Linked DNA regions of Homo sapiens: all the other regions are reported to be linked to region 1. Evidence: microRNA targets listed by miRTarBase, many of them from high-throughput screens and not tested one by one. Region 1 holds a microRNA gene; each other region holds the end of a gene's coding sequence. Distances are from middle to middle.

The links. Region 1 holds the annotated microRNA hsa-miR-3688-5p (AGUGGCAAAGUCUUUCCAUAU, at 3,157-3,177, opposite strand). A microRNA usually pairs through its seed, bases 2 to 8, with sites in the 3' UTR of a target mRNA and lowers its output. Matches are read on the target gene's strand: a 7mer-m8 pairs with bases 2 to 8, a 7mer-A1 pairs with bases 2 to 7 and ends in A, and an 8mer does both.
Region 2: miRTarBase lists LAPTM4A as a target of hsa-miR-3688-5p. Seed matches in the 3' UTR shown: 8mer at 651-658.
Region 3: the mRNA of THAP6 is a reported target of hsa-miR-3688-5p. Seed matches in the 3' UTR shown: 8mer at 2,282-2,289.
Region 4: the mRNA of CD9 is a reported target of hsa-miR-3688-5p. Seed matches in the 3' UTR shown: 7mer-m8 at 4,523-4,529.
Region 5: the mRNA of PABIR2 is a reported target of hsa-miR-3688-5p. Seed matches in the 3' UTR shown: 8mer at 3,154-3,161 and 7mer-m8 at 3,002-3,008.

Annotation. Positions count from the first base shown.
Region 1 is chr4:159,125,704-159,130,810 of GRCh38, forward strand. MIR3688-1 (microRNA 3688-1) reads right to left here and starts at 3,191; the gene lies at 3,099-3,191. The region is part of intron 1 of RAPGEF2 (Rap guanine nucleotide exchange factor 2); the gene reads left to right. MIR3688-2 (microRNA 3688-2) reads left to right here and starts at 3,102; the gene lies at 3,102-3,188.
Region 2 is chr2:20,028,462-20,033,568 of GRCh38, reverse strand. It overlaps LAPTM4A (lysosomal protein transmembrane 4 alpha), which reads left to right. Exons shown (of 7, transcript NM_014713.5): 7 at 290-919. The coding sequence ends at 364. Among named protein-coding and RNA genes, the nearest start is that of MATN3, 18 kb to the right of the region's middle.
Region 3 is chr4:75,526,541-75,531,647 of GRCh38, reverse strand. It overlaps THAP6 (THAP domain containing 6), which reads right to left. Exons shown (of 5, transcript NM_144721.6): 5 at 1,622-4,688. The coding sequence ends at 4,434. Among named protein-coding and RNA genes, the nearest start is that of THAP6, 15 kb to the right of the region's middle.
Region 4 is chr12:6,237,350-6,242,456 of GRCh38, reverse strand. It overlaps CD9 (CD9 molecule), which reads right to left. Exons shown (of 8, transcript NM_001769.4): 8 at 4,191-4,694. The coding sequence ends at 4,629. It overlaps LOC105369625 (a long non-coding RNA gene), which reads left to right. Exons shown (of 5, transcript XR_001748979.2): 4 at 2,624-2,811. Among named protein-coding and RNA genes, the nearest start is that of CD9, 40 kb to the right of the region's middle. RefSeq lists enhancers at 234-734, 735-1,235.
Region 5 is chrX:134,767,970-134,773,076 of GRCh38, forward strand. It overlaps PABIR2 (PABIR family member 2), which reads right to left. Exons shown (of 10, transcript NM_001387468.1): 10 at 1,597-4,314. The coding sequence ends at 4,170. Among named protein-coding and RNA genes, the nearest start is that of PABIR2, 27 kb to the right of the region's middle.

The sequences.
Region 1 (5,107 bases):
GCTGAGATTGCGGCACTGCACTCCAGCCTGGGCGACAGAGTGAGAATCTGTCTCGAAAAAAAAAAAAAATAATAATTCGCTGTTATAGTCTGTGCATCTATGACAATTTTATCAATATGTGTTAAGAAAAGAGGCTGTTCCAATTGGATTTTGGTTGTTAGATGTGAAATTACTTAGTTGAGAGCATTTGCTTTCATCATGGTTCAGGAGAGACACTGACCACTCAGAATTTGGCAACAGTATCTTGCCAGTGATGTTAAGTATAACTTTGTAGAAAAATGCTAATGAAAAACTTACTACAATGTGTCTGCTATCAGAACTCAGCACTTCCCAATAGCAATGTTGCTAGTGTTTATTCTCCTTTAACTACTTGGTCAAAAATAACTGGGTGATATTTGAAAGTATAAAAATTGATTATCCTCAATTTTTATGTTTTTTATGAAAACAATATTTTTTTGGAAAGGATTGAATACTATTTAAGCCTTCCTTCAAACTTACTGTGTAGCATTTTATACATTTCTAGTTGTGATTTTTATTTTTTAAAGGACGAGAGTTAAACACAATTTTCAGGAAAACACCTATCTCCAAATTGGTTGAAACAAAATACAAAATAGCATAGGAGAGAGCAATTCTAGAAACCTTTGAAAGCCCAGTGTAAAGCAATTCATCATTCTTACCAAGCTGGGTGAAATTTTTAAAAATAAGAAAGTCTCACCAACACAACTTAAAATCTGGCTTTTTGCATATTTTTAGTTTTCTTTATATATGAAATAAGTGAAGTAATTTTGATTGTAAAATGTCATTTATTCTATCTCCTGTCCAGGTTTTAAAAAAAAAAAAAAGCCTGATGCCTCCCTGTCATCTCTCAGAAGATTTTAAGACTTTCTCAGAATTTTCTTTTTAACTTACTGGATAAACACTCCTCTTTGCTGATTGTGAAAATGACCATCTTAAAAGTGTTTACAGGAACCCACACTTATCCTTTTCCCCCTCTGCTTTTAGGCTAGGTCATAATTTCAGTTTCCCTTCATTTTTATTTTTCTCAGTTGATTATAAGATCAGAGCTACAAGAGGAAAAATGCTGTTATAGACCTGTTTATTTAGGATGGTCTTTTAGAGGAAAAAACCCGAGTCCTCATTTCTCATTGTCAAGTAGAACCCCATTCATGTGCATGGTAATTGTCAAGAATCATATTTGTAACCACAAAGAACAATAATCTCACACTATCTTCTGGGTAAACTGCTCCTACGTTTGAATTGATTTTGTAAAGAGGTAACTGTGGTTTGTGGATGAAAACATTTGTTTATTTGCATTTTTTGTTGTTGTTGTTTGTTTTCTTGAGACGGAGTTTTGCTCTTGTCGCCCAGGCTGGAGTGCAGTGGTGCTATCTTGGCTCACTACAACCTCCGCCTCCTGGGTTCAAGCGATTCTCCTGCCTCAGCCTCCTGAGTAGCTGGGATTACAGGCACACGCCACCACACCAGGGTAATTTTTGTATTGTTGGTAGAGATGGAGTTTCACCACATTGGCCAGGCTGGTTTTGAATTCCTGACCTCAGGTGATCCGCCTGCCTTGGCCTCCCAAAGTGCTGGGATTACAGGTGTGAACCACCGCACCTGGCCTATTTATTTGTGTTTTATGATACTATTTACCTTCTCACTGCCACCATTCTCAGGGCTTTATCAGTACCCCACAAAAAACACACCTTTTGATTTCCTCCCTTTTTACCTGTGGTAGTAACTCATTTAATGCCATGTTCCCCCCTTCATGAAGCATCTTCTAGTTGCTTAGTCTAGAGGTTGAATTTTTCTTTATGCTGTCACTGTTTTTAGCTTGCGTTTCTTCTGGGCATTCCTTGGCAATGCATAATTTCGTAATTATTAAGTGTACATATCTCATTTTTAAACTGCAGAATTCCTCAAAGGTTAAACTACCTTTATGACCTTTATGTCTCCATGGCGTTTTATAATACCTTAGCATTCCTTAAATATTCAAATGTATAATATGAAGTGTGTTTGACATTCTCATAGTAATAGAATAAGAATACTAATGGGGTATATAGCTCAGTTTGGTGCAGTTTTTAAAATTTAATTCATAGGCAGTTATTTTTATTATTTGAATACAACATTGTTCAGGCTTGTAAATTATTTTAAGACAGTCAAAATTGATTCTTAGAAAATTGCCTGGTTAGGTGATAGCAATTCAAATTTTACTTAGTCACCATGATTTGTGTAAGTTACAGAAGCAAGTCAGAAGCAAAGTCCTGAATTCTAGGCATGGTGTTATGAATCTCTATGCCCTGGACTGCAGTTTATTGCCTTGGATTATATTTAGGTATGTATATATATGTTTGCTTTCCTTGAATTTTGAACTCCCTGTTTTATACATGTACCTTATAACCTTTCTTTTGTTAGGAGATACTTTAAATTGTACGTTCTATTTCATCTAGTAAAATCCAAGAAGAAAAAATACTGAGACTAATAATGTCTTAACTTTTACATTACTGTCAATCTAATAGTACATTTTGGGGCCTAATTCTACTGAGGAAGACTAGCTGGAAGAGAGGGACTGATGTTGTATCCAGTTACTCTCCACGTGACCCTGGAAATTTTCATTGGATCTTAGTTTTCTCACCTGTAAAATGGAACACAATGCTTTCCATACCTATTTTCAGGGTTACGTAAGTTTAATATATGAGAAAGTACTTCGCAATGGAAAAGTCTACATGAATGTAAAGTATTACTATTGCTGACATAATAAAAATATTAGTGTCAGTAGAAATTGTGAGTCATTTATAAAGATAATAGGCTAAGATCTTCTTAATATTCTTAACATTTGGCTAGTAGTTTATTCACCCCTCTTTTTGGTGAATACAAAGCAGTAAAACCATGTTTTCAAATTATTATTTGGTTATGCAGGTTAATACTTATATGGATTATTTTAGAAGTACAGGCTTCATGTTGAGTTTTGTAAAGAGCTTTCTCTTTGCCAAAACATTTTCAGACTTCAAAGAACCATTGTGTAAAAACTCTTTTACACCAATGTATCTTAAATAGTTTTGATCATTTTATTTAAATAAAGAAGCTGAACCAAAAGTTCTTCACTTTAAAGAGTGGCAAAGTCTTTCCATATGTGTAACAGACATACATACATACATATGGAAAGACTTTGCCACTCTTGAAAGTGAAGAGTGTGTGTATATATATACATATGGGGGGTGTGTGTGTGTGTGTGTGTGTGTATATATATATATATATAAATCTATTTTAAGTATATTTTTTGGAATACATATTTGTAGAAGAAAAGATTTGTAATTGTATGATATGAATGGATGCAGTCTTTTGATTATTGAAATCTGTCATCATTCTGTATTTAAATTTGAATGCTGCTATGTGATCTTAGACATGGAGGCAGAAACTTGCATAGAAATGTAATAAGAATAAGAATCTTGAATAGAAATCTTATCGCTTTCTTTTTGAAGAATTTGAAAAGCAATTAGAATTGCTTTCATATTATAAATGCTCACCATTGAAAGGTGCAATATTAATGAATCTTTATATTATGCCTCTAGTTATCTCTTAAGAGTTACTTTGATAATATAGACCTTTTGAAAGTGCCACACTGATGGTTTCAGGTTGCCTGTCAGTGTAATAATACATAATGCTTACAGTTATGGTGTCAGTTCTTTATTTTATGTTTAGGGAGCACATATCTCAGAACAGTTCAGGAAAGACATAGAAAAGCAGTTGTCATTTATAAAGTGTGTGTTATGTGCCAGAAAGTCACCTAGATGTTTTCTTATGGTTTATTCAGTTCTAACATCAACCTTATAAAGCATGAGGTACTATTATCAATTTACCAATGAAGAAACTGAGATGCAGGGATTAAGTAATTTGCTTAAGAACAAATAACTGATTTCAAAGTCCCTATTCTATCCACTCTACTCCCCCTATAATAAGAGCAGGTGTAAATGTCTATGTTGTTGTTAATAAAGACTTTTACAAAATGAAGTTCTAATTTAGTTAGGATGTTTTTCTCTTTTTCGAGACAGTGTTACTGGAAAGGGGTCCCAATCCGGACCCTGAAAAGAGGGTTCTTGGATCTTGGGCAAGAAAGAATTTGGGGTGAGTTCATAGAATAAAGTGAAAGCAAGTTTATTAAGAAAGTATGGGAATAAAAGAACGGCTACTCCATAGAGCAGCCCTGAGGACTGGTGGCTGGCTGTTTTTATGGTTATTTCTTGATTATATACTAAACAAGGGGTGAATTATTTATGAGTTTTCCTGGAAAGGGGTGGGGATTTTCCCCAGAACTGAGGTGTTCCTCCCTATTTTAGACCATACAGGGAAACTTCCAGACATTGCCATGGCATTTGTAAACTGTCATGGCGCTAGTGGGAGTGTCTTTTAGCAATCTAATGCATTATAATTAATGAATAATGAACAGTGAGCACTACCAGAGGTCACTTTTGTTGTCATCTTGGTTTTGGTGGGTTTTGTCTGCTTCTTTACCTTGTCTTATCAGCAGGGTCTTTTTGACCTGTATCTTGTGGTGACCTCTTATCTCATCCTGTGACCAAGAATGTCTAACCTCCTGGGAATGCAGTCCAGTAGGTCTCAGCCTTATTTTACCCAGCCCCTATTTAAGATGGAGTTGGCTCTGGTTCAAATGCCTCTGACAACAGGGTCTTGCCCTGTCACCTAGGTGGAATTGCAGTGGTGTGATTATAGCTCACTGCAGTGTTAAATTCTTGAGCTCAAGTGATCCTCCCACCTCAGCCCCCCAAGTAGCTAGAACTACAGGCATGCACATTTTTCTTTATTCAAATTTCTCTGCTAGGTCATTTTTATTTTAGAGATGAATTTCGGATCTAAAGTCTAATTTTATTAAAATTAAAAATTTTTAAACAATTAGAGTTAGTAGAGTAGGACTGGAAGGGCTTCTTTTAATTTAGACCCAGGCTTAGCGAATAAATTACTCTAAATAAAAGTTATCTATTATTGTTTTATTTTATTTTATTTTTTGGGACAGGATGTTGCTCTGTTGCCTAGGCTGGAGTGCAGTGGCACAATCTCGGCTCACTGCACCCTCCGCCTCTCAGGCTCA
Region 2 (5,107 bases), not on the chromosome of region 1:
ATGAGGGCAGAGCAATGGCACCCACTGCCTGCCTGTCTAGGAATCCTTGTCCAGAAGCAGGACTCTCTCTCCCCACCTCCCTCTCTCCACCCTCCCCTTCGCTAGCAATCTTGGTAAAATTCCAGGTTATTGAGGCATCTACTTGGGAACATTTTAGCTAACAGTTTCTTCAGCTCTTCTTTATGGTTTTGTATAACCCTATTTAGGGCATAAAGTCTGAAAGCTGAATTATCTCACAAAGGATTTTAAAGGAGAATTAAATCTGATACAATTTTTTTTCTCTCTTTAGTACGTTTTGCCAACCTATGAAATGGCCGTGAAAATGCCTGAAAAAGAACCACCACCTCCTTACTTACCTGCCTGAAGAAATTCTGCCTTTGACAATAAATCCTATACCAGCTTTTTGTTTGTTTATGTTACAGAATGCTGCAATTCAGGGCTCTTCAAACTTGTTTGATATAAAATATGTTGTCTTTTGTTTAAGCATTTATTTTCAAACACTAAGGAGCTTTTTGACATCTGTTAAACGTCTTTTTGTTTTTTTGTTAAGTCTTTTACATTTTAATAGTTTTTGAAGACAATCTAGGTTAAGCAAGAGCAAAGTGCCATTGTTTGCCTTTAATTGGGGGGTGGGAAGGGAAAGAGGGTACTTGCCACATAGTTTCCTTTTTAACTGCACTTTCTTTATATAATCGTTTGCATTTTGTTACTTGCTACCCTGAGTACTTTCAGGAAGACTGACTTAAATATTCGGGGTGAGTAAGTAGTTGGGTATAAGATCTGAACTTTTCATCTGCAGAGGCAAGAAAAATATTTGACATTGTGACTTGACTGTGGAAGATGATGGTTGCATGTTTCTAGTTTGTATATGTTTCCATCTTTGTGATAAGATGATTTAATAAATCTCTTTAAATACTTAGGGTTGTCATTGTTTTTAATCCGTTACTTTTTTTTAAGATAAACCCTGACATTTTCCATTACAGTGTATTCAGAGTGCCAGTGTTTATTTTTTTTTTAACTTTGAGAATACAGTTGGCCCTTCGTATCCATGGGTTCTGTATCCATGGGTTCTATATCCATGGAGTTAATCGACTGTGGATTGAAAATATTTGGGGGGAAAAATGGATAGTTGGATCTGTACTGAACATGTACAGACTTTTTATTCTTGTCGTTGTTCTCTAAAAAATACACTATAACAATTTATGTAGCATTCACATTATATTAGATATTATAAGTAATCTAGAGATCATTTTAAAAATATGGGAGGATATGCATGGGTCATATGCAAATACTATACCATTTTATTATAAGGGACTTGAGCAACTGTGGATTTGGGTATCTGGAGGGAGAACCTGCAACCAGTCCCCCATAGATACCAAGGGACAACTGCACAATGATGCACAGTTAATTAGAAATCATTTTCTTAATCCATTAACTCTAAATTTGTGGTGAAGATATTTCTTGAATCACAGGACAGAAATTAATACCGGTGGTTTGAAAAGTGATTGCTGTAGCAATCTTTTTTTTATGTCTTATTTTTTTTCTTTCCAACTTCTTAGGTTCAGAGGGTACATGTGCAGGTTTGTAACATGGGTAAATTGTGTTGCAGGGGTTTTGTCAGTGTTTTGTCATCCAGGTTGTGAGCATAGTACCTGATAGCTAGTTTTTTGATCCTCACCCTCTACTCTCAGGTAGGCCCTGGTATCTATTACTCCCTTCTTTGTGTCCATGTGTACTTAATGTTTAGCTCCCACTTATAAGTGAGAGTATTTGGATTTCTGTTCTTGCATTAATTTGCCTAGGATAATGGCCTCCAGCTCCATCCATGCTCCTGCAGAGGACATGATCTTGTTCTTTTTTATGACTGTAGTATTCCATAATATATATGTACCACATTTTCATTATCCAGTCCACTGTTGATGGGTATTTAGGTTGATTCCATGCTTTTGCTATTGTGAATAGTGCTGTGATGAACATATGTGTACATGTGTCTTTTTGGGAGAATAATTTATATTCCTTTAGGTATATACCTGATAATAGGATTGCTGGGTTGAATGGTAGAATGTTTTAAGTTTGAGAAATCCCTTATGCTGCTTTACACAGAGATGGAACTAATTTGCATTCCCACCAACAGTGTGTAAGTGTTCCCTTTTCTCTGCAACCTTGCCAGCATATGTTTCTTTTTACTTTTTAATCATAGCTGTTCTGACTGGGGTGAGATGGATTTCTCTGATTATTAGCATTTCTCTAATGGTTAGTGATGTTGAGCATTTTTTCATTTACTTATTGGCCATGTGTATGTCTTTTGAGAAGTGTCTGTTCATGTCCTTTACCAATTTTTTTTTTTTTTTTTTGAGACAGGGTCCTCGCTCTGTCACCTAGGCTGGAGTGCAGTGGCACGATCTTGGCTCTCTGCAACCTCCACCTCCTGGGTTCAAGCGATTCTCATGACTCAGCCTCCTGTGTAGCTGGGACTACAGGTGTGTGCCACCACACCCGGCTAATTTTCGTATTTTTAGTAGAGATGGGGTTTCACCATGTTAGCTAGGCTGGTCTCGAACTCCTGACCTCAAGTGTTCCACCTTCCTCAGCCTCCCAAAGTGCTGAGATTACAGCTGTGAGCCACTACACCCAGCCTCCTTTGCCCACTTTTAATGTTGTTGTTGTTGTTGTTGTTTTGTTTTTTGCTTAAGTTCCTTATAGATTCTGAATATTAGACCTTTGTCATATCCATAGTTTGCAAATATTTTCTTCCATTCTGTAGGTTGTCTGGTTGCTCTGTTGATAGTTTCTTTAGCAGAGCAGAGAAGCTCTTTAGTTTAATTAGGTCCCATTTGTCAATTTTTGTTTTTGTTGCAGTTGCTTTTGGTGTCTTCCTCATGAAATCTTTGCCAGGGCCTACATCCAGAATGGTATTTCTTAGGTGTCCTTCTAGGGGTTTTGTTTGTTTTGTTTTTTCAGTTAGGTTTTACATGTAAGTCTTGATATGGGTTTGGATTTGTGTCCCCATCCGAATCTTATGTTGAATTGTAATCCCCAGCATTGGAGGTGGTGCCTGGTGGGAGGTGATTGGATCATGGGGGTGGTTTCTCGTGGTTTAACATCATCCTTCTTGCTGCTGTTCTCGTGATAGTGAGTTATTGCGAGATCTGTGTGTGTAGCACCTCCCCCTTCTCTCTCTTGCTCCCGCTCCTGCAATGTAAGATGCTTGGCTCCCCCTTTGCCTTCTGCCACGACTGAAAGCTCCCTGATGCCTCCCCAGAAGCTGATGCTGCCATGCTTCCTGTACAGCCTGTGGAGTGAGCCAGTTAAACCTCTGTTCTTTATAAATTATTCAGTCTCAGCTATTTCTTTATAGCAGTGCAAGAACAGACTAATAGAAGTCTTTAATCCATCTTAAGTTATTTTTATATATGGTGAAGGTGTCTAGTTCTAATCTGCATTTGGCTAACCAGTTATCCCAGCACCATTTATTGAATAGTCCTTTCCCCATTACTTATTTTTGTCAACTTTATTGAAGATCAGATGGCTGTAGTTTGTATGGCTTTATTTCTGGGTTCTGTATTTGGTTCCATTGGTCTGTCTGTTTTTGTACCAGTACCATGCTGTTTTGATTACTGTAGTCTTGTAGTATAGTTTGAAGTTGGATAATGTGATGCCTTCAGCTTTGTTCTTTCTGCTTAGGATTGCCTTGGCTATTCAGGCTTTTTTTGGTTCCATATGAATTTTGAAATAGTTTTTTCTAATTCTGTGAAAATGCCATTGGTAGTTTAATAGGAATAGCATTGAATCTGTAAACTGCTTTGGGCAGTATGGCCATTTTAACAATATTGATTCTTCCTATCTGTGAGCATGGAATCTTTTTCCATTTGTTTATGTCGTCTCTGATTTCTGTCAGCAGTGTTTTGTAATTCTCATTATAGAGATCTTTCACCTTCCTGGTTAGCTGTATTCCTAGCTACTTAAGTCTTTTGTGGCTATTGTGAATGGGATTGCATTCTTGATTTGACTCTCAGCTTGGGTATTATTGTTGTATAGAAATGCTACTGATTTTTGTGTATTGATTTTATATCCTGAGACTGCTGAAGTTTATATCTAGGAGCTTTGAGGCAGAGACTATGGGGTTTTCTAAGTTTAGAATCACATTTTCTGTGAAAAGAGATATTTTGACTTCCTCTCTTCCTATTTGGATGCTTTTTATTTTTTTCGCTTGCCTGATTGTTCTCACTAGGACTTCCAGTACTGTGTTGAATAGGAGTGGGGAGAGTGGGCATCCTTGTCTTGTTCCAGTTCTCAAGCAGAATGCTTCCAGCTTTTGCCAATTCAGTGTAATGTTGGCTGTGGATTTGTCATAGATAATTCTTATTGTTTTGAGGTTACGTTCCTTTGATGCCTCATAGTTTTTTAAGGGTTTTTGCCATGAAGGGATGTTGAATTTTATTGAAAGCATTTTCTGTGTCTATCGAGATGATCATGTGGTTTTGTTTTTAGTTCTATTTATGTGATGAATTACATGCATTGATTTCCATATATTGAACCAACCTTGGATCCTAGGAATAAAGCCCACTTGATCACAGTGGGTTGGCTTTTTGATGTGTTGCTGGGTTTTGGTTCATAAAAGGCAGTTCCCCTGCACACACTGTTGCCTATTACCCAGTTCCAAAGTCGATTCCACATTTTCAGGTCTCCTTATTTATGTTCTTCAGGGATATTGGCCTGAAGTTTTCTTTTTTTTTGTTGTGTCTCTGCCAGGTTTTGGTATGAGAATGATGCTGGCCTCATAGGATGAGTTAGGGAGGAATTCTCCTCAAGTTTTTGGAATAGTTTCTGTAGGATTGGTACCAGCTCTTTATATGTCTGGTAGAATTTGGCTGTGAATCTGTTTGGGACCTTTTCCAGTTGGTAGGAGTATTATTATTACTGATTCAATTTCAGAACTCAGGCTGGATACAGTGGCTCATGCATGTAATCCCAGCACTTTGGGAGGCCAAGGCGGGTGGATTGCTTGAGGCCAGGAGTTCGAGACCTGCCTGGACAATATGGTAAAACCCTGTCTCTACTAAAAATACAAGGTCAATGTGAAAGAAAAAATATTAAAAGCAGCTAG
Region 3 (5,107 bases), 84 Mb from region 1:
TTTTATAAAGTGCTCAGTCTCGGGTATGTCTTTATCAGCAGTGTGAAAACGGATTAATATAGCTTCTTTGCCCTAATGCAGGACAAGTTTGGAAGGTCATCTGTGTTGAGGTCCCCAAGAGCACACACACAAGTTTCATGATTCACTAGAAGGACTCACAGAATTCGGCATATAGTTGTACTCAAGGCTATGATTATAGCAAAAGGATACAAAGAAGAAGCACAATCAGCTAAGGGAAAAGGCACATGGTACAAAGTCTAGAGGAAACCAGGTGTAGCTTCTGAGTCCTTCCTCAGTGTAATCACACAGGACACATTTAAGTCTTATAGTGCTGAACTGTGACAATACACGTTGCCTACCAGGGAAGCTCATTAAAGATTCAATGTTCAAGGTTTTATTTGGGGCTGGTCATACAGCCCCCCTTTACCTAACAGATTCTCAAATCCAGACTCCCAGAAGGAAACTGGGTGTTCTGCATAAACCACCTTGTCTGTACAAACAGTCTGGCACAGTGAGCTACTCTTATCAGTTAGGGAATGGTGGAATCCAAATTTCCAGATGCCACTCAAGAACTAACCTTGCAACCTTGCAGGCCTTTCCAAGGATAGCAGTTTCATGCCTATGTTAACTCATTTTTGTGTATGACCCCAGTTTCAGAGTTTTCTGTGGGGCTCACTGAGGTGCTACCTTTACAGACATACAAGATAGACATGAATGGTGGCCTCCACCATCTCTCTTCATTTAATTCACCATTCTGTCCCCTGCAAAATTTAGACAGACCCTGCAAGATGACAGTTGGACTAAGGACAATTCAACCAACGAGTAGCCCTGATTACAGCTGCTATGCATGATGTGGCATCTTTGTTAGAGCAGATTAACATGTCTATGGGTAGATGCCATACAACCATTGGGTGCATGGTTTTCCATCCCTATTAAAGGATCAGAAACAGCTCACATTCACATGGAAAAAACCACAGTATACATATATGGTCTTGTCCCCAAGGTTATGTTAATGATCTTGCTTCTGTTATAATTGAAAGAAGTCTAGACCAGACAGACATTCTATGGAAAATCACTTAGTTCACTCTACTGATGGATTATGTTAATCCAATGGGAGGACTAGTTAATTGGAGGCCTTGATAAAGCACATGTGCTCCAGATGGTGAGATAAAACTTATGAAATTCAGGGGCCTATAAACATCAGTAAAATTTTGGGGGAGAAGTATCCAGTGATCTGCGGCATGCTAAGACATCCCCTCTAAAGTAAGAGACAAGTTATTTACAACCTGTATGTTCCACTATGAAGAAGAAAGCACAATGCCTGACAGGCCTCTTTGGGTTCTAAAGGCAGCATATTTCACACCTAGGAATGCTGCTCTCCTTTATATACTGGGTGACATCATATCTGACAGTTTTGAGTGAGGGCCAATGCAGAAAAGGGCTCTATGATAGGTCCATATTGTGCTGAAAGCTGGCCTGCTACGTGGGTCATCTAACCTTGCAGACCCCATATTAGAGTTATTGGTGGAGGAGAAATTAGAGCAAAACCTCTACGTACGTACTCTTCATTTTTCTCTGCCCATTTTATTGAATAACTCAATGTATAAAACCACATAACACATTACTGGATAAAATGTTTTATTTTTCAAATAAATTATAATAGATTTTCTCTCTCTCAATTATTTCTGTAATAATTTTATCTTTTTATTAAAACTAAATATATATTAAATACATTTCACCTTTTCTCAAATTACAGACTATGGTATAACTGTAATTGTCATTAGCAACCAAAGTCTATTTCCAGAAATTTAAACTTGATATAGAGAAAAATTCCACGTATCAAGCGCTTCGTACCTGACTTGGTGCTGAGGTTGAACTGTTGTATTAATGTGTTCCTGGCTCTAGAGGCCACTCCTAGCTTTTAAAGCAAAGTGGAACCCTTAGGGTCAGGCTTGGCTGCCAGAGAAATTTCTGGAGGGGGATGACTTGGGTTTTGCTTTACACAGGCCAGTTCTTTCCTGGGCTAGGGTGGAATCTCTGGGAACAGAGGACTGAGATACATACTGTGTTTAGGCATTTGTTTGGAGCAGCAGGGAGGACCCTATTTTTAATCTCACATTTCTATCAGTAATTGCTTCCCTATTAGAACAAAGAGAAAATGGGCAGCTCTGGGTCCTTAATGATACCAATATTTTGCACACAGTTATTTATTTCTCAGTTATACTAGGTCCAGTGAAAAAGAAGTGCTGAGTCTACTATGAACACAAGTAGTAAAAGTGACTGTGGCAATTTTGATAGTGGCAGACTGGGATTTTACTCTTGGAAAGGTCTTCCAGGTTTGGTGTATTCTAAGCAGCCAGTAGAGTGCTAGAATTTAGACATACTGTGTTTGGATCTACCCTCTTACTTACTCCATTGTCTTACTTTAATTTATATATTCACAAATAGGGTGAGGGAAAAATAATCTCTATTGAAAACATCTCCATAAAACCTAAGATCATACCCAAACTTTCCATTAGGGTGGCCATTTATGAACTCAAAATTAAGTAACTAAAATAAATAATGGGTAATTAATGAAAGTAGTTTTGTTTTTTTGAGATGGAGTCTTGCTCTGTTGCTCAGGCTGGAGTGCAACGGCGTGATCTTGGCTCACTGCAATCTCCGCCTCCCGGGTTCAAGCAATTCTCCTGCCTCAGTCTCCCAAGTAGCTGGGATTACAGGCACGTGCCACCATGCCCGGCTAATTTTTTTTTGTATTTTTAGCAGAGATGGGGTTTCACCATCTTGGCCAGGCTGGTTTTGAACCCCTGACCTCAAGTGATCTGCCTGCCTTGGCCTCCCAAAGTGCTAGGATTACAGGTATGAGCCACCACCCGGCCTTTTTTTTTTTTAACTACCTTTTTACTACTTTTTTTTCAGATTGTAAAAAGATATGGCCTCAGTGATTTCCTCTTAGCATAACGCTGATCTCGCAGATGTGGGTTAAATCCCATTTAGAGGGAAGGTTTGGAATCCTACATAAAAGTATAACATGCATTAAAACAGAAAATTCTTAAATACAAAAAATTCAAGTGACCATATCTTAACTAATATTAATGTAACAAAAATAAAATTACAATAAACAACTGAGCACAAAATGCAATTCAATTTTTGTTACTACAATGAAATGGCTGATACTCAAATTCTAACTGCTACAACATGGACTTCTGAATGAGGTCCATGTATGTACATGTGCTTCTAAGTAGAGTGTTGCTTTGGCAAATGGTTTTTATTCTAACCCACAGTATTTATGACTCTCAATTTCAGTTGTTTTCGGTAAGGAATTATGACAAAAGCTAAATTTATGAGACTTGGATCAATTAGGAAATAACAAGGAATTATTCTTTTGCATATTCAGTAAGAAGCTATTCTAAAGCTGCTGTTTTAATTACCCGTTTCTCTAAATAAAAGCCTTTGGACAATAATCTACTCCCCTAATTAAAATATTCTAATCCTTTCTCTCCAATTCCTATTTCAACTGGAAGAGCCACAGTTATTAATTTCTAATGGTTTCTTTTGTATTTTGTATTTTTTTAAAATGTCAGCAATACTACTTTACATATAAAATACAAAGCAGTATTAAAAGTATAGAGCTAGTACTGCCATTCAGATTTTAAACATATACCTTTATGACGAAATAGTCATGAAGCAAAGTGTTCAGATCTGTCAGAGCAACCAACCATTTAAAAATCAGATCTACGATCCTTTTTGTCTTTTTAAAGCTATTCTGGTTTACATCAAAGTGCTCCTAGTGAGGAGGAATGATGTACTGTACTGAAAACTGAGACTTCATGAGGGGTCTTCTTAAATTGGCTGTGAACAATTTTAAAAGCCCACAGATCTTCACTATGTGTTATTCTCAGAGTCAATACCACAGGAAGCCTTGTAAAAAGATCCTTTGGTACTACTGATAGCTAAAGCACCTTGGATTGAATCCAAGATGGATATGCATTACAAATGAATTGTGCTTTGTAGTAAAATGCATTTAAAGTAAAATTCAATGTACTTACCATAAAGCACATGTAAGTAAAGGTACTCCTTTGAAGCCAAATATCTGGAGAAGTGTCCAATTCCTTCTACTATAGCTTAATGTGACTAATTTGACATCATTTCTTTAGCTCTGTGAAATTTTCTTGAGATTTTAACATCTTACAATAGTGACCTGGCACTAGTGTAGGTCTATAAAACATAATTGTCACAAGACACAAATACATAATTACCACAAATTTCTGCATATTTTCAAAAAAGTCTTTGGATAACAACTATAATGCATAATGCTCCAGAGAATCCAAAGCAGCACTTTAAATGATGGATATTATTTAGTGATGGTAAATGAGATTTTATAAAAATTTGTACCAATGACAATTTTAGGTGGAACGTAACATGAAATTATTTCATGAAATATAGTCCTGTTCTATGCTCTCCTGACAACAGTCCCAACAGAAAGTGTCCAGTCTATTTGCTGTTTCTTGGCTGATCAGACATTCATCCTTTAATTCCCTGATTGTCTTCCTCAATGATTTCTGAAAACGTTTTTCTCGGTCTAAAACATTCCGTAGACTTTCCTTTGTATCCTCTAGCTCGCCGATCACATGATCTAATTTATGCTTAAGTTTCTTTGGACTGTCCATTACACTGTAGCTATGTTCCTAAAAACATAAACACCAAGTTATTAAATCAGACAGATATGTAGTTGGATAAAAGCTTATAACTAGGTCTAAGCTGTTTCTTCATTTACAATGCCTGGAGAACATTTTTAAGTTGGTGATAGAGGTTTAAGGAACACAGGAAGAAGATGGGGGTAGAAGCAATATTTAGGGTGCTAAGGGCATCCCTCCTTTTACTAAGGCCAGGCATACACAAAGACTGCAGAATATTATGGATGGGAAGCACTTATCTCTATGAATAGCATGACACTTGCAATGACTCTACAGCTTTTGTTCATTCAATGTGGTGCTGCTAAGTTTAATTTTTACCTATCAAACAAATTTAAATTAAGTTTTTAACTGGGTTACTTTATTGGATGGCTATTGCATTTGATAAGGTGTGACAGGAAAAGAGTACTGCA
Region 4 (5,107 bases), not on the chromosome of region 1:
GCTGTATTTAGTAGTATTCCAAGTTATCATTTAAAACATTGACCAGGAAAGAACATGGCAGGACTGCACAGGCCACTGGTAGAGACCTCTCCCCCTTGTATGGTTGTGTTCACCCAACCACGATATGCCTAATTGTGCTGGAATTCCACCCATACCACTCCAACTTGTGCCCAAGAAGCTTATGAGATATCCTGGCCTGTCTGTCAGTGAAACAATTCCCTGTACACCTGGAGGACTCTAGGAAATGAGAGCATCATGGAATGAGCCCCTGGATCTATGTGGAGTCTTGGCCCCACCCTTGGCCACTCAACTCCCTCTGGAGGACGTGGTTTTGGAGAGTAGGGCCTTGGGAGGAGAGTCCGGGGGGTTTATGGATATTAAAGCACTTTCAGTCCTTGAGGGCACTGGGTAAAGTAATAGCCTTTTACTAAATCCAGCTGCTTTGATTCAAATTTGTTGCCCCTGGGCTGCTTTTCACAGTTGAGCCAAGAGGCCAACACCTCCATACAACTGCTTCTCTTATGCTCAAGGAGATTCTTTCTGGACCCAAAGCAGTTGTTGCTTTTGGCAGTGTCTGTTGCCTTTTTGTGACCTAAAACTTCCTAAAGGCCTTTGCTCCAAGGCCCTTCAGGACCCGAGAGCAGCAGGCTGTCCTGGTTCTCCCTAAACTGCAGAGCTACACCTGGCCCTGTCCGCCAAGAGTCAAGGGAGGCTCGTTTCGGCCTGATTGTGGACAGCCAGCTCCTTTTGGGATGTCTGCCAGCTTTCAATGATCCCTTGTCTTCTGGCGCTGGGCCCAATCAGCAGGTCACAGAGGGTGGCTGAGTGTTTCCTCCACGCACCCCTCCCTGCCCGCTGCTAGCTGAAGGAACAGAGGTAGACATTTGACTCAAACTGGGTCAAAATTTTCTCTCCTAAAACTTCAAGTGGGGCTAATGGAGGTTGCCTCTGTGTAAGCTTGGGAGCTGGGGGGCAGCCGGTCGGGAAGCGGCTGAGTAACAAAGTTGGTCTCCTCGAAGAGCAAAATATAGTAGCGCAGAAATGGAGAGCTGTAGGAGTTCTTGGTCCATGTTTCTGGAATCTTCCTAAGGCTCAACCATTTTCATTCTTGCGTTAATTGCTCACTTTTGCTTAAGCTAGCCCATTTGTCCTTACATTATTAACAACAAACAGAAAGGCAGGATATAGATAGCCCCGAGGTGTTCCAGGATTTAAGTAGCTGCAGTCTGTTCCACGCTAACCTACCCTTCAGCAAAGCTGCAGCATGGAATGTGCTCGTAGCCTCTGAGACCTGCTTTCTCTAGAAGGAGCTGGAGGTTACACGCAGGGGTCTCCTCCATTCCTATATAAAATGAATGGTTGGCCAGGCGTGGTGGCTCACGCCTGTAATCCCAGCACTTTGGGAGGCCAAGGCGGGTGGATCACCTGAGGTCAGGAGTTCAAGACCAGCCTGGCCAACATGGCAAAACCCTTCTCTACTAAAAATACAAAAATTAGCTGGGCATAGTGGTGGGTGCCTGTAGTCCGACCTACTCGGGAGGCTGAGGCACGAGAATGGCTTGACCCTGGGAGGCGGAGGTTGCAGTGAGCCGAGATCATGCCACTGCACTCCAGCCTGGGAGACAAAGCGAGACGACATCTCCCAAAAATAATAAAATAAAATAAAATTAATGGTTGACCTGTTACTTCCACAACGGGAACAGTCGTCAGCCGTCAGATTAATAAGGGACCTAGGGCCACAGAGCAGCAAGGACACTCAATAATGCCAAACCAGCTATTTTTTTGTGTGTGTTTAGTAAAATATAATACACAATTTACCACTTTGACCCTTTTTTTGTTCTTTTTTTTAGACAGCGTCTTGCTCTGTTGCTTCGGCTGGAGTGCAATGGTGAGATCCTGGTTCACTGTAGCCCTGACCTCCCAGGCTCAGGTGATCCTCCCAACTCAGCATCCCAAGTAACTGGGACCACAGGTGTGCACCACCATGCCCAGCCAGTTTTTTTTGTTGTAGAGTTGCAGTCTCACTATGTTGCCCAGGTTGGTCTTGGACTGGGCTCAAGCAATCCTCCCACCTCAACCTCCCAAAGTGCTGGGATTACAGGTGTGAGCCGCTGTGCTCAGCCCATTTTAACAATTTTTAAGCATATAATGTAGTGGCACTAAGTATATTCACAAAGTTTTGCAACAATCACCACCATCTATTTCCAGAACTTCTTCATTATCCCAAACAGAAACTCTGTACTCATTATACCATAACTCCCTATTTTCCCTTCTCCCTAGCCTCTGGTTACTTTTAATCTACTTTCTTTATAAATTTACCAATTCTAGGTACCTCCTATCAAGGGAATTGTAGAATATTTGTTCTTTTGTGTCTGGCTTATTTCAATGAACATAACGTACTCAAGATTCATCCATGTTGCAGCATTTAAGGTGGAATTCTAGCCCATCATATGGATAGGCCACGTATTGTTTATCCATTTATCTGTTGAAGGACACTTGAGTTTGCACCTTTTGGCTGTTGTGAATAATGCTGCTATCAACTTTGGTGTTCTGATGTTTGAATGTAATGGCATTCAGGGACATTTTGATCCTTCTTTCCTGGTTTTCTTTTTGTAATGTTAAGGAGGAACCCAAATGGAATCAAGGAGTGGAACATAAAAATCGGTTTCTTATGCCTCTGCACTTCACCTTTCTCCTGTTCATCCCACTCTGCCATCATTGCCTGCTTGCCTCCGAATTGCCCACGACAGTGCAGTCTGGGCACGGATCACACCTCCCATGCAGCGGTGGCTTTGTGATCTGTCCACCTGGGTAAGCTGAACCACACTTCCCAGAATTCCCTTCCCGTGTGTTTCCGGTTAGAGTGGAGCACAGAGGAGAAACTTGTGGAAGGTTTGGAGGTGGGAAGTGAAGCAGCAGTCATTTTACAGCTCACACGAATTGTGGCTTCTCTGCTGGCTCACCTCAGCAGAGGCAGGAACTGACATGGGGCCGGGTGCAGTGGCTCACGCCTGTAATCCCAACACTTTGGAGAGGCCAAGGCAGGTGGATTGCTTGAGACCGGGAGTTCAAGACCAGCCTGGGCAACATGGCAAAACCCTTCTCTACAAAAAATACAAACATTAGCCAGGTGTGGTGGCTCATGCCTGTAGTCCTAGCTACTTGGGAGGCTGAGTTGGGAGGATTTGCTTGAGACCAGGAAGGTCAAGGCTGCAGGGAGCTGAGATTGGGCCATGACACTCCAGCCTGGGCAACAGAGTGAGACCCTGTCTCAAAAAAACAAAAAAGAACTGACACAGACGGATGTGTCTGCCTTCAAGGGCTTCCACTTGGGCTTGTCCTCCCTTACTTTATATCCGTCTGTCCTTCCCGATTGTCTGCAGAGCCTGCTTAAGCAGCCCCAGTGCCAGTGACTGTGTAAGGTCAAATTCCCACAACAAATCTCTTCAAACAAGTACCTCTTAGTGGTTCTGCTTTTCTGATGAAACCCTGATGGGTACACACTCATTTATTCATTCAACCAAAAAATATTAACTGATAAAAAATACTGAACACTACCATGCACCAGATACTAGGTGCTAGGTAGTGAATAAAACAAAGTTCCTGCCACCATGGTGTGAGGTGTACTGTCATATCCCCAAGATATACCCCACTGCTGAATGAGCGTCTGAGGACCAGGTGCTGGTGCTGACTCCTCTGTTGACACCTGTGTGACTTTGGATCAGAATCCTTTAATCTCTCCACATCTAGATTTCTTCATTAGTAAACTGGGGTGAGCAACCTCCCAATCTACTTCTCATATAAATGCAGGTGGGGCCGGGCACGGTGGCTCACGCCTGTAATCCCAGCACTTTGGGAGGCTGAGGCGGGCGGATCAACTGAGGTTGGGAGTTCGAGACCAGCCTGACCAACACGGAGAAACCCCGTCTCTACTAAAAATACAAAATTAGCCGGGTGTGGTGGTGCATGCCTGTAATCCCAGCTACTCAGGAAGCTGAGGCAGGAGAATTGTTTGAACCCAGGAGGTGGAGGCTGTGGTGAGCCAAGATCGGGCCATTGCACTCCAGCCTGGGCAACAAGAGCGAAACTCCGTCTTAAAAAAAAAAAAAAATGCAGGTGGAGTTAATAGGAGTTGAAAGACATTTGCAAACCAAATAGCTCTCAAAATAATTAAACAAAACAAAAACCAGTCCAGGACATTGTCATAATTTTTTATTATGTATCAAATTGTCTTCAATATAAGTTACAACTTGATTAAAGTTGATAGACATTTGTATCTATTTAAAGACAAAAAAATTCTTTTATGTACAATATCTTGTCTAGAGTCTAGCAAATATAGTACCTTTCATTGCAGGATTTCTGCTTAATATAACAAGCAAAAACAAACAACTGAAAAAATATAAACCAAAGCAAACCAAACCCCCCGCTCAACTACAAATGTCAATATTGAATGAAGCATTAAAAGACAAACATAAAGTAACTTCAGCTTTTATCTAGCAATGCAGAATGAATACTAAAATTAGTGGCAAAAAAACAAACAACAAACAACAAACAAAACAAAACAAACAAACAAAAAATCCCACCAATCTTCATGGGTAAACTTTCCTGCTCAGGGATGTAAGCTGACTCTAGACCATCTCGCGGTTCCTGCGGATAGCACAGCACAAGATCATACTGAAGATCATGCCAAATATCTAGGAGATAGGAAGAAACATGAGGATCAGGGTGGTTTGATCTGAAGGAAGGCTGAGGGAAAGGGAGAGACATGGGTCACCCAGTCCAAGAAAAATGACAAGGAGAATGGCATCCAGGAGGCCAAACGAGTCAGAAGGTGCTGAAGCAGGAGAGATGCAGGCCAGATAATGAGAAGGGTGCGGGACGTGAGGAATCTGGGGGGGTTGGCAGTCAGCTGCACAAGCATTTTCCTTGGAGAACTTTCAGGGTGGGAAAGTAAGCTCAGAGCCAAATTTAATGCTCAAATTCCAGGTTTTCCTATAGTCCTAGTCCATACAGGTTAGTACTTTTGCATTTGTCTTTGTGTGTATGTTATTTAATACTCTTTTTTTTTTCTTTTGAGATGGAGTCTTGCTCTGTTGCTTAGGCTAGA
Region 5 (5,107 bases), not on the chromosome of region 1:
AGGAAAAAAATGTATACGTGCATATATATATATATGTATATACATCCCCCCCACACAGAGAGACACAGGGAGAGACAGAATGATAGTGCATATATAGGAGAGACAGATAGACAAAGCAAATGTGGTTAAATGTTAACAATTAAGGAACCTGGGTGAAGGATATATAGGAGTTATTTGAGCTACTCTTACAACTTTTTTGTAAGTTTGAAATTATTTCAAATTTCAAAATGTAAAGGTTTTTTTTTGTTTTTTTTTTTTTAAACAGTCTCGCTCTGTCACCCAGGCTAGAGTGCAGTGGTGCAATCTCAGCTCACTGCAACCTCTGCCTCCCAGGTTCAAGCGTCAGCCTCCCAAGTAGCTGGGATTACAGGCGCACGCCACCACATCCAGTTAATTTTTGTAATTTTAGTAGAAACAGGGTTTTGCCATGTTGCCCAGGCCGGTCTCAAACTCCTGGCTTCAAGCAATCCACCCGCCTTGGCCTCCCAAAGTGCTGGGATTACAGGCGTGAGCCACCATGCCCAGCCCAAAATGTATTTTAAAATAAAGCAGCTCATGTTATTTCTTAAAAACTGAAGATAGGGCCAGGCGAGGTAGCTCACGCCTGTAATCCCAGCACTTTGGGAGGCTGAGGCAGGTAGATCACCTGAGGTCAGAAGTTTGAGACCAGCCTGGCCAACATGATGAAACTCCATCTCTACTAAAAAATACAAAAATTAGCCAAGCATGGTGGCGGGCGCCTGTAGTCCCAGCTACTCAGGAGGTTGAGGCAGGAAGAAATGCTTGAATCCAGGAGGCAGAGGTTGCAGTGGGCAGAGATTGTGCCACTGCACTCCAGCCTGGTCAACAAGAGCAAAACTTTGCCTCAAAAAAAAAAAAAAAAAAAAGAAACTGAAGATAAACTTAATAATCTGAATCACACATAAAAGGCTTTTTGCCTGTTTTTTGTTTTTTTAAGATGGAGTCTTGTTCTGTCACCAGGCTGGAGTGTAGTGGCACAATCTCGGCTCATAGCAACCTCCGCCTCCCGGATTCAAGCGAGTCTCCTGCCTCAGCCTCCCGAGTAGCTAGGACTACAGGTGTGCACCACCATGTCCAGCTAATTTTTGTATTTTTAGTAGAGACGAGGTTTCACCATGTTGGCCAGGATGGTCTTGATCTCTTGACTTCGTGATCTGCCTGCCTCAGCCTCCCAAAGTGCTAGGATTACAGGCGTGAGCCACTGTGCCCGGACCCTTTTGCCTGTTTATCTACCCTCATCTTTTTCTAAAAATAATTTATAGAGGCTTATCAATATGTAAAAATTTTAACAAGATAAACCAAATTGAAAACGAGGAAGAAAGATGTATGACCCTGGCAAGAACCTTCTAAGTTGTCAAATTCTACAAAATACTCTTGAAAATTTGATTATGTGGAGAGGTTTCACTTCGTTTTGGCAAACAGCCCCAACTTCAACATAGCTATTCGTTCTTTTGTGTTTCTGATATCCTTTTATTCAAACTTGACCTGCAATTAGACACAGAGAATAAACTACTGGGATATAGGGGCAGAAAATAATTATTATTAAGAACAAAGGACAGACTTTTAAAACACTAGTAAATTTTATGCATGTATACACACTTTATTAAATTTGCATTCTAAGATATACACAAGGCCAGCATTTCACAAAACTTCCTATTATTCCAAAAGCAGTAATCATGAAACAGTGATTATATAAGTCAATCAAGCAAAAAACATTATCTATAGGGTTGTATCATATCATCTCTTATACCTGTTTTCAAATAGAAGCCTGAAATATATGATATATATTAGAATAGGAAGAGAGAATTTTACTTTATAACAATCGCTTTTCAAATATTAGACTTTATATAAAAATAAAGGGGTCTTAACAAAGTTCATCTGTGAGTTAGCATATCTCTTTATTTCAAAACAATCCCTGCAAAAACTTAACTTTCCAGTCCATTTAAACAACAAAAACTAAAAATGAAGCTTGGTTTAAATAATAAAGTGAATCATCTTGTCTCCTAGTTCTCACACCATTGGAACAACTTCCATTTCCTGACCTAATTCTATCCCACCATTGAATTTCAAAAATTAATGTAAATACCATCATATTTCAGTTATTTCTTAACAGTGTTAAGTTCGAGCCTAAAAATGATGGCCAAGTGTCCCTTTAAGGCAAAGAAGACAGTAGGTGGATAAATATCCTGAAAGACAAAACCATCTATTATCATTATAGAGGCAGAACATTTTGACATGATCTTTTACAAACAGAATAGATACACTGCATACCATCGAAGAATTTTTTCTTTATAATGGCATACTAGGGGACAAGCTTCATAATAGATTTATGTTACGTTTGAAGAAGTAGAGACTTTTCCCAGATGAGAGCAATACAAGAAATAAAGCCATTAATGGCTGTTATGGTTACAATTTAAAATAAAGGACACATCGGATGCTGTAACAGAAGTACTGCACGCTAAGTGATGCTCTCTTGTAATTGAAAGAGAATGGGTTTCCCTTCAAACCATATGCTATTACTAGTCTCTGAGTGCCTTCAAAGCACATACTCTTCCTTTAAAATCCAAGGATCCTTGCCTTCAAAAGACACAAATGCAGTAGTTTTCATTTCTTACATTCACTTAAAAATGGATTATGATTCCAGCAGGCAAATCTGCATATTAAATATAGACAACCCAACCACAGTATCTGAACGTTAAAAGAAATCTATCACGACAGACATTTTACCTAGTTATAAATAACGTAACAATAGATCACACTCAGATTTCTTAAACAGCTCACTCAGGAGTTTCCTCTTTTAAAAATTAAATAACTTATGGTACCTCACACTTATAGCACATACACAGTTCATAGCTGAAACAGCTTCTTAAAAGCAGAATGCACAATCACATTGACTTTTTCAGCTTCTAAAAGCTTCTTTGTAGATATTAAACTGCCCTCACTACAAGGCAGTATGAACAAGAACTGGATTCTGATTCTGGTGGCAACACAATAACTATAAGGCAGTAAGAACAAGAACTGGATTCTGATTCTGGCAGCAACACAATAACTAAAACACCATTCACCACATGACAAAACAAACAAATCCAATGACAAAAAGGAATCGGAAAAAAAGCAGCAACAGAAACAGTATGTGGCAATCATTCACATAAGGCCCCTCTTCCACCATACCTTATGATATACATCCCTTATAGCATGACAATGTACCCCAAGGCACCTGAGGCCTCATAATACCACTCGAGACACTGACAGCTCCATGGACGCTTTTGTACACAGTGGTTTGTGTGTAAATAACTATTCATTCATTTGTAGATGCTCCACACATCTGGTCAAGGCAGGAATTTCTTCTCCTTGATAACACCACCTAGAAATATCAACAATATTTTATATATTCCTTAGGGCAACAGGTTTGAGGAGAAATATATCAACTGTGGTAGCAAAGTCATAAGAACCTGTGATGACTAATCCAAGCATCCTGTAAGTCCGTTTACATTCTCAGCACTAAAATCAATGCTCACTTCACACACCCCAACAGCAAAGAAGCAATAAGAGTAATGAAAGCAACTACGTATTTCTTCCCCTCTGTGAGAAATGGCATAAGCGGCTCAAACAGGAAAGGGAAACAAAATAATGTACTTGAAGCTGATGCAGAAAAATAAAAATTTAATATAATTAAAAGCAATTTATATATCATCATGAAATAAAGAGAGATTTGAAACTATGTAGTCAACAGAGGACAAAAAAAAATCTCTCAAGCAAGAGAATTTCTGATCAAATCTGTCATATCACTGCTGCGGAAAAGGACCATTAAAGGCAATACACATCAGTGCCTTTCTTAAATGTATAGACTCAAAATAGGTGTTTTTTGAGGCACTAAGAAAAAAGATTCCTCTAAGCAATCAAAAATCAGCATTTGAGATTTAATCACTAAATCCAAAATGAGATCAGCAAAACCAGATACTAGTAAGGTCACTAGGCTCACAAAATTGAACTTTGGAGAAGAGAGATGCCAAAGAGTAATAATAGCATCAGAATGTGTGAAATCTGTAAAACTTTAATCCTCATTATGGATCAAAGTTCTCTGCGTTCCCCACTAAACATTTTATGTAGGAAACAGCAGTTAAAACGTTGAATCAGAAATGGTTAAGTCACTTGGGTGAGAGATCATCCATCAAGATGAACGAAGAGCATGAATTGGAGCATGCTACTGGAGACTCTGCGGTAGCGCTGCCTTTAGCCAGCGGGTCTGAGGATAAGCCACTGCTGCTACTACTGCCATCCAAAATATCTGAACTGAAGACAAAGCAAAAAGAATTATAAGCAAATGCAACTATCAGGGTAAACATAACATGCAATGACACAGTTTCAAGAGCTCACAAATCAGTAAATCACTTGTAAATAATAAAAAAGCATAAAGCCACAGCAATGAACTACATAATATACTACATTATAAAGCCACAGAAATCCAAAGTAAGACTCTTCGAGGTCCTGTATCATTTGATTGTCCCCCCTAGAGGCACCAGACCGCCTAACCTACAATAAACGTTCCTCGTGACATGCCATGGTTTTCGGGAGGGAGTTCCTTCACTTCACTTCAGCTCAAGAAATTTCTATTCTTATGTTTACCTTCCCATCAGGCTTGGAGCAAGAGGAATGGTTACTTATTGAGGTAACCATACTCGGACTATCAGAGGTGTTCGATCAAGTACACTGCCTCATAGTTCCTCTACTCTAAAACAAAGTCTTTCAACTCCCCTAGAGTTATCACTTCCCCATTCCCAAAGGGCCTTCAATTCAAACACATTTTTTAAATGATTTCCCCCTCCAATTCTATGCCATTTATAATTCCTTACACTATTTCCTTTCTTCTTGCTTTCAAAACCCAAAGGTCTATTTCTAGAAGAGTCCCTTTCTTTGATCCCTTCAGTTATTCTCCAGTTAAGCTTCTACAATGAATAATCTACACTTGTGGTCTCAATACCCGTTGTCTATTGCCTCTTTATCCTGACAACTGGCTCCTGTTCCTATCCTTCCAGTAAAACTCCAGATCTGGACATCAAGAACCTCTATACCCAGCCCAGGGATT